Linked DNA regions of Homo sapiens. The protein of the gene in region 1 purifies or fractionates together with the protein of each later gene. This does not show direct contact. Each region holds a gene or a part of one and is shown in the gene's direction. Other genes may lie near its edges.

Region 1 (3,826 bases):
TGATCCCAATTGTTTAGATGGAATAGGCTCAGATGATTAAGTAGCTTTCCCACTGTTAATGAAATTATTGATGGGTTGAAACTCAAATCCAGATCTTCTGACCTCAGATCTTTAATCTCTATATCCCCTTGTCTTACAGTTGACAACAGATGTGCATTGTTAGTCTTTGGCAGTCAGGAATAGATAAGAGGGTTCTGGTTCAGTGCTAAGAGAGGATGAATTAAACTTGGTAAAATGGGTAAGATCTATTGGTCTGTTTTGCGGTCTGAAACAAAATTTGGTGTACCACCTGGGGTCTGGATTATTTGAGAGAAGGTTAGGGGCATTTGAAAGGCAAATTGTAAAGCTCAGTTAAGTATTCATGATGAAAATGATTAAATATATAGTATGAAATTCTAAGGAGGCATGTTGTGAAGGTAAATATAAATAATAGAAACACATTAAGGGCTGACTTGTTTCAGTGCTTTTGAGTTTTATTTTAATTAAATGGTTGCCTCATTTAAACTTAATTACCTAAAAACAAATTAAGTGATTATTATTGCATACCTTGATTTCACTGATGGGCTCTTCAAGACCTTTATAGATATGTTGGCCAATGGACATTTAGTGGGATACTAGTTAAGAGGAAGACTGCAGAGATATTCTGAAGAAGCTCATAGTGACTTTAAATTGATCACATTCCAGAATTTGATTACTACCATATTATTTTGTGGCTTTATTATTATTACAACTAACTATTTGCTTTTTCTTTTTTAAGGCCATCTGAGTTCTTCTTCAATTTATCCAGTGTGCCTTGCACCTTATTTAGTGGTTACAACTTGTTCTGACAATAAAGTACGCTTCTGGAAATGTTGTATGGAAGCCAACCCAGAGTGTAATAAAAGTGATGAGAAAGAAATTTATCATTGGAAGAGATGGCCTTTGATGAATGATGAAGGAGAAGATAATAGCAGTACAGTGAGCATTGTGGGAAGACCAGTTGCTGTTAGCTGTTCATACACAGGTCGCCTTGCAGTGGCTTATAAGCAGCCTATCCACCATAATGGTTTTGTTTCTAAAGAATTTTCCATGCATGTTTGTATATTTGAATGTGAATCTACAGGAGGATCAGAGTGGGTTTTAGAACAAACAATTCATCTTGATGATTTGGTTAAGGTTGGGAGTGTACTTGATTCAAGGGTCAGCGTCGACAGTAATCTGTTTGTGTATAGCAAGTCAGATGCACTCTTGAGCAAGGATAGATATCTTATTCCGAATATCAAACATTTAGTACATTTGGACTGGGTATCAAAAGAAGATGGCTCCCACATTCTTACAGTGGGAGTCGGTGCGAATATCTTCATGTATGGAAGGCTTTCAGGAATTGTGACTGAGCAAACCAACAGTAAGGATGGAGTAGCTGTCATCACTTTACCACTAGGTGGTAGTATCAAGCAAGGAGTTAAGTCAAGATGGGTTCTTCTTAGATCTATAGACTTGGTATCTTCTGTTGATGGTACTCCTTCACTGCCTGTTTCTCTCTCTTGGGTAAGAGATGGGATATTGGTGGTAGGAATGGATTGTGAAATGCATGTATATGCACAGTGGAAGCATGCTGTCAAATTTGGAGACACTGAAGCTGATAGTTCTAATGCAGAAGAGGCAGCAATGCAAGATCATTCGACCTTTAAATCTAATATGCTGGCAAGAAAAAGTGTTGTTGAAGGAACAGCTATTTCTGATGATGTTTTTTGTTCACCAACTGTAATTCAAGATGGTGGCTTATTTGAGGCTGCACATGTACTTTCCCCTACTCTTCCACAATATCATCCAACTCAGCTGTTAGAATTGATGGATTTAGGGAAAGTGCGAAGGGCTAAAGCCATTCTCTCTCATTTAGTAAAATGTATTGCAGGTGAAGTAGCAATAGTTAGAGATCCTGATGCTGGAGAAGGAACTAAGCGACATCTCTCTCGAACTATTAGTGTAAGTGGCAGTACAGCAAAGGAAACAGTCACCGTAGGAAAAGATGGTACTCGAGATTATACTGAGATAGATTCTATCCCTCCACTACCACTATATGCATTACTTGCTGCAGATCAAGATACATCCTACAGAATTTCAGAAGAAAGTACAAAGATACCACAGAGCTATGAAGATCAGACAGTAAGTCAACCAGAGGATCAGTATTCAGAGCTGTTTCAAATCCAGGATATACCAACGGATGATATTGATTTAGAGCCTGAAAAGAGAGAAAACAAATCAAAAGTAATAAATCTTTCTCAATATGGACCAGCTTACTTTGGCCAAGAACATGCAAGGGTACTTTCAAGTCATCTTATGCACTCAAGTCTACCAGGCCTTACCCGTTTGGAGCAGATGTTCCTTGTAGCTTTGGCTGATACAGTGGCTACTACTAGTACTGAGCTTGATGAAAGCAGAGATAAGAGTTGCTCAGGTAAATATTCTCGCTAAAAATTTATAAAGTTGTACCTAATAGAAATATTTGTATTATCTCTATACTGACTCATTTACTGAATTGCAGTCTCAACTTTCAAACTTTGCAGGGAAAAGACCTCCTTAATAGGTAATTACTATTATATAATATGCTCAGTTAGAAAAGACGGTTGAGGCCGGCATATGAATGCATGGATTTGTGAGATCCATGTGCATTCTCTCATGAGTTTTTACACTGAAACCTTTGTGTCATTTTGGATTTATAATCTTGTTTTTTTGTGTGTGTTTGGGTGGGTTTTTTGTTTGTTTTTTTGAGACAGGGTCTTGCTCTGTTGCCCAAGCTGGAGTTGAGCGGTGCAGTCATGGGTCACTGTAGCCTTAACCTCTCAGGTTCAAGTAATCTTCCTATCTCAGCCTCCTGAATAGCCGGGACCACAGGTGTGCACCACCATGGGGCCCAGCTAATTTCTTTTTATTTTTTTTGTAGGGACTAGGTCTCCTTATGTTGCCCCAGCTAGTCTCGAATTCCTGAGCTCAAGCAGTCCTCCTGCCTTGGCCTCCCACAGTGCTGGGATTATAGGTATGAGTCACCATGGACTGGCCAAGTCTCTTGTTTTTTAACACAGATTGATCCCTATGATTTTTTCTTTGATAATAACAGCCCATTTGTTAATGTTACTATGGAATCATGAGGCTTATTGGGACCTCATGGGCTCAACTTGTTGGTCTTCCCATTTCTAGCCATAAACAACTTTTTACAATTACCTAATTTTCTCCAAAAAGTCTCTTCAGCGAGATTTCCATACAGTTAATGTCATACGTATTTTGCCTAATTCATTCTGTAACTAGAAAATTTTTGGCTGCTTCCTGGAACTAGATTCCATTCTCTTTTATGCACATAGTTCAGGGTAATGGTGTTGATTGTAAATGATGGCATTGGCAAAGGAAACTGAAAATTAATGATCAGAATTTCATTAATTCAATAAATATTTTGGAGGAGTGAAAAATTGCTATGTTTCAGGCACTTTCTTTACTTTATCATATTTAATTATCACAGTCTTCTAGCAGATAGCTATTATTATGTTTAACTTTATAGATGAAGACACTGATCCTTAAGAAATTAAGGGACTCATCTGAGATCACATAGGCATTAAGGAGTAGAAGTGGAGTTCATATGTGGATAAACTGTTGACTCAAAGCCTGTACCCTTTTAACTATTTCATGATTTCCAGATCTGTGGGGGAAAGGTAGCTGGAAAATATCTCTTCATATAGATTTACATCCTTATAGTATATCCCCCAAAGTTTTCTTCTCTGCAGGTTAAAATAACTAGAGACCTTCTAGGGTTTTGCCTATGACTTATTTTCTCACTATTAATTGGAAAAGAAAA
Region 2 (3,826 bases), on another chromosome or scaffold:
ATATCCAATGCTATTCAATATGGTTACTACCAAGGGACTCTCAGAAATGGCTACTAAAAGCCACTGAGAAGGCCTAGATCATTCATATTGTACATTGACATTTTTACATAAATGGAATTAATACTACTTACCATTTGAGTAAAGAACACAAGGAATTGAAGAGTCTGTGAAAATATGTCCTGTTTGTGAAAGGTGAAACTGTCCAATCCATGTCCAATCAATGTCAGTCGTCCAGTATTGGTGGTGATTATTAAACTTATTGGAGGTACAACTTTACCTCCAATAAGCTTACCTTTACAAGCTTCTGCTTTCCCTGCTTCATCTCTGTTATGGGCTATCAGTCCAGCTTGGTGTGAAAATGAGACTATATCTATACCACAGCCCCCAATCCTTTCAAAGGCTTTGCATGTATTTCAGCTACAAGTGACAAGGATATTAGGGATTTAAAAGGATAAGAGAGTGGGAAAGATGTATAAGGAAGTGCCTTTGTCAAAAGGCAGCAAAAAGTATAATGATATAAACATAATATGAAATAAGCAAATTTTAGAATACTTTGAAACAGATTTATAGAGGAATACATAGTAAATAGTTATAGACACACATTTGGGGCATTTTTAATAAGGTTAGCAAGAAGAAATTTGCATGAGTAATGAGCAATGTGAAATGGGCATTATACTTTTGTTCAGTAAAGCCCAAAATCTAGGCCAATGGTTCTCAAAGTGCAGTTCCAGGAGCAGCAACAGCAGCATCCCTGGAGAGGGAGAAAGAGAGAGAGAGAGAGTGTATGTGTGTGTGTGTGTGTGTGTGTGTGTGTGTGTGTGTGTATGTGCATTCCAGTGATGTTACTCCTTCAAGCCCCTGAATCACTATAGCCACGACTCTCCAACTGATTCCAACCTTTACCATTATTCTGGCTCTCATCATAAGGACCAGTCTCTGGCCAAGAGGTGTATATTGTTATCTTGGTCAGGCATATGTTTGCTTGGTTTTAAGAAATTATCAGATTGAGGAGTCTCATGTTTTATGGGACTCCGGTGCATATGCTCGAAAAAAATTAAAAAGAACTTATCATATTGGATCAACAAATTGCTCAACCTGCAAAATCTTTGATTAGACTTAGCCAGCCCATCTGGCCTGCTTTGGGTTTAAAAAAAAAAAAAAGATTTTTTTTAACTCACAAATGGAAAAAAGGGAAAGGTGTTAAGTTTGTTTGGTATTGCCAGCTCTTAAATACCTGTCTTTACCGTGGTGGCTGTTCTCCAGTAAGGCTCTGGCAGAAGTATATTTGATTTTAAGATTTTTGCCTAAATAGTAGAATTTGATAGCAACGAACTCCAAAACAAAATCTGAACTGGAACAACTAGTTAACCCCTCTCAGCCTCTTTGTAATGCCAAGCTTTATAGACATTTATTCCTTAGGTGGTCTTGAGCTTTTTCTAACATCCAATTTTATAAAATGTTGTGCATGCAAACGCAGCATTGTGCTCATTGTACAAGTCACCTCAAACTCATTCCTTCCCCCATGTGTATCATGGCGAAGAAATATCAATATATGTATGTGCTGAGGTCTTCTGATGAATTGTAAATTACAAACCTTTTCATTCATTTTTAAATGAGATATATTTACCCTGGCTAGTGGTTAAAGTTTTATTCTTTTTATTATATTTCACTGCTACTTTTTTCTACTGACTCCAAAGCTTACTTTGGGCTATATTTCTTATTTCTAGATTGTTGTATTTATCTTATTTCTATATTTATCTGCAGTCTTGGAATGTTAGAGCTGAAAGGGACCAACCTCTCTCATTTCACACATGAGGAAGCTGAGGCCCAGAAAGGTCAAATAACTTATATACAAGGTCACACAGTGAGTCAGTGGTGGGGCCCAGCCTCAATTCCAGGTCTCCTGCCCTTGGGCCCAATCTGGTTTCATTTAAAGCACTACAATTTATAGAAGACCCACAGCTGGCTTCTACTTTTATGACACATGAATTTCCCAGGTATTTCAATGAACTAATATATATGCTTTAAGGGAAAATGTTCAAGAGTTCTTTAATTCATTAATCCAAAGACAAATTGGATTTTCAGTTTATAAACATTAGTTTCCCTCCAAATTCAATATGTGCACCCTACTTAGTACAATGGATGTTTTCCCTAAAAGTTGTGTGAAAAATGAGTTTTTTAGATATCAAGTATCATTTTTTAGAGGTAAACTTCCTATGTAAGGGAACCTTCTGGTGACTTCTTTTTGAAAAACCGAGATTCCTCTTGTCATTGTCCCATAATGTCTCTACTTTTTTTAGTGCAAACTTTTGTATTTGGTGTTTATTTAAAAGTAGGGTACAACCCAACCAATATTAGCTTTCCCAGAGTCTACTTTAGCCTTCCCTTCTTAATCTTTATGAGAAATTTTCAGACTGTTAAATGCTCATGAGATATTTAGTTGTGTTCTAGAAATTTCACCTGGCTTGATATTCTGTCAATCCCTGGGCTCAAATTCCAGCTCCATCTTATCAAACAATAACAGAATTCCCTAATCAGTACTAAGCTCCGCATGCAGTCTCTTTTCCAGAACATTCTTTGCCTAATGTTCCTTAGTGTGGCTCTCTCTTTAGTTGGGGCCTCCTTCCTTAGTACATGCATACCTTACTATTCTGTGGAATTGCAAGCCATGCATCTTTTAGAGCCACACTAGTCAAATTGATTGGCATTTCCATTTATTTTCCATTGTTCCCTTGTTTCTCCTGGACTTCCTCTCGTTTCTCTTTTCGAGGATGCTTAGAGGCTTCTCACCAGAGATTGGTGAGGTTTCCCCCATCATCTAGATGGGAGATTGACAAATTCTGTAAAGGTTAAGACAGTAACTATTTTAGGCTTTGTGGGCTACATGTGGTCTCTGTAGCACATTCTTCTTTGTTGTTGCTGTTTGTTCATTCGTTTGTTTTGCAACCTTTGGATAATGTAAACCACTCTCTTTTTTTTTGACAGAGTCTCTCTCTGTAGCCAGGCTGGAGGGCAATTGTACAATCTCGGCTCATTACAACCTCCACCTCCCGGGTTCAGGCAATTCTCCTGCCTCAGCTTCCCGAGTAGCTGGGACTATAGGTGCGTGCCACCATGCCCAGCTAATATTTTTTTTTTTTTTGTATTTTTAGTAGAGGCAGAGTTTCACCATGTTGGCCAGGATGTTCTCGATCTCCTGACCTTGTGATCCGCCCACCTCGGCCTCCCAAAGTGCTGGGATTACAGGTGTGAGCTACCGCACCCTGCCAATATAAACTATTCTTAGCTCATGGGCTATGCAAAGCCTTAGGCTGACCCCTGATCCAGACTGTCTTCTGAGACAAGCATTTCTGTGAGCTGCCCCATGTGATAACTGAGTTGTGCAGTAGCTGATGTGGTTTATTGCCTTCCCATCTACTGCATTGTCAGACCAGACTGACTGCACAGGAGCAGGTGGAGGGGGGCTGCATATGCCAACCATTACTCTTCAATAGAGTGTCCTTCATGAGCTCTCTCTCTCTCTCATTACTGACTACCTCAGTGTAGAAACCCTCATTTTTTTCCCCAGACCTATCCTTGTTACCCAATGTGCCTCTGCTTCCCTGGGTTTGGGATAAACTGGAAGGAGAGAATTTCTGAGTTCTCTTACTTATTTTGTTCCATAACTTCTCCCTCATATCTGTGGTTGGAGACTCCCACCCTTGTCCACCCTTTCCTGCCTCATACTAGTATCATGAGTTTAGGGCTGTCGTTGGAAAGTCTGGCAGCCCAGGCCATAGGATTCCAGTTCAGCCTACGATTTCCTAGGGAAATCACCAGGTTCCAA

Evidence for each region.
Region 2: the proteins of DMXL2 (region 1) and NHSL2 purify together in Homo sapiens (co-immunoprecipitation; one large-scale study listed by IntAct). This does not show direct contact.

The regions. Positions count from the first base shown.
Region 1 is NC_000015.10:51,497,163-51,500,988, reverse strand, and holds part of DMXL2 (dmX-like protein 2), read left to right. Parts: intron 1-757; coding exon 758-2,437; intron 2,438-2,524; coding exon of another isoform or gene 2,525-2,610; exon of another isoform or gene 2,611-2,752; intron 2,753-3,826. UniProt on the Homo sapiens protein: May serve as a scaffold protein for MADD and RAB3GA on synaptic vesicles. Plays a role in the brain as a key controller of neuronal and endocrine homeostatic processes.
Region 2 is NC_000023.11:72,148,056-72,151,881, forward strand, and holds part of NHSL2 (NHS-like protein 2), read left to right. Parts: 3' UTR 1-3,826.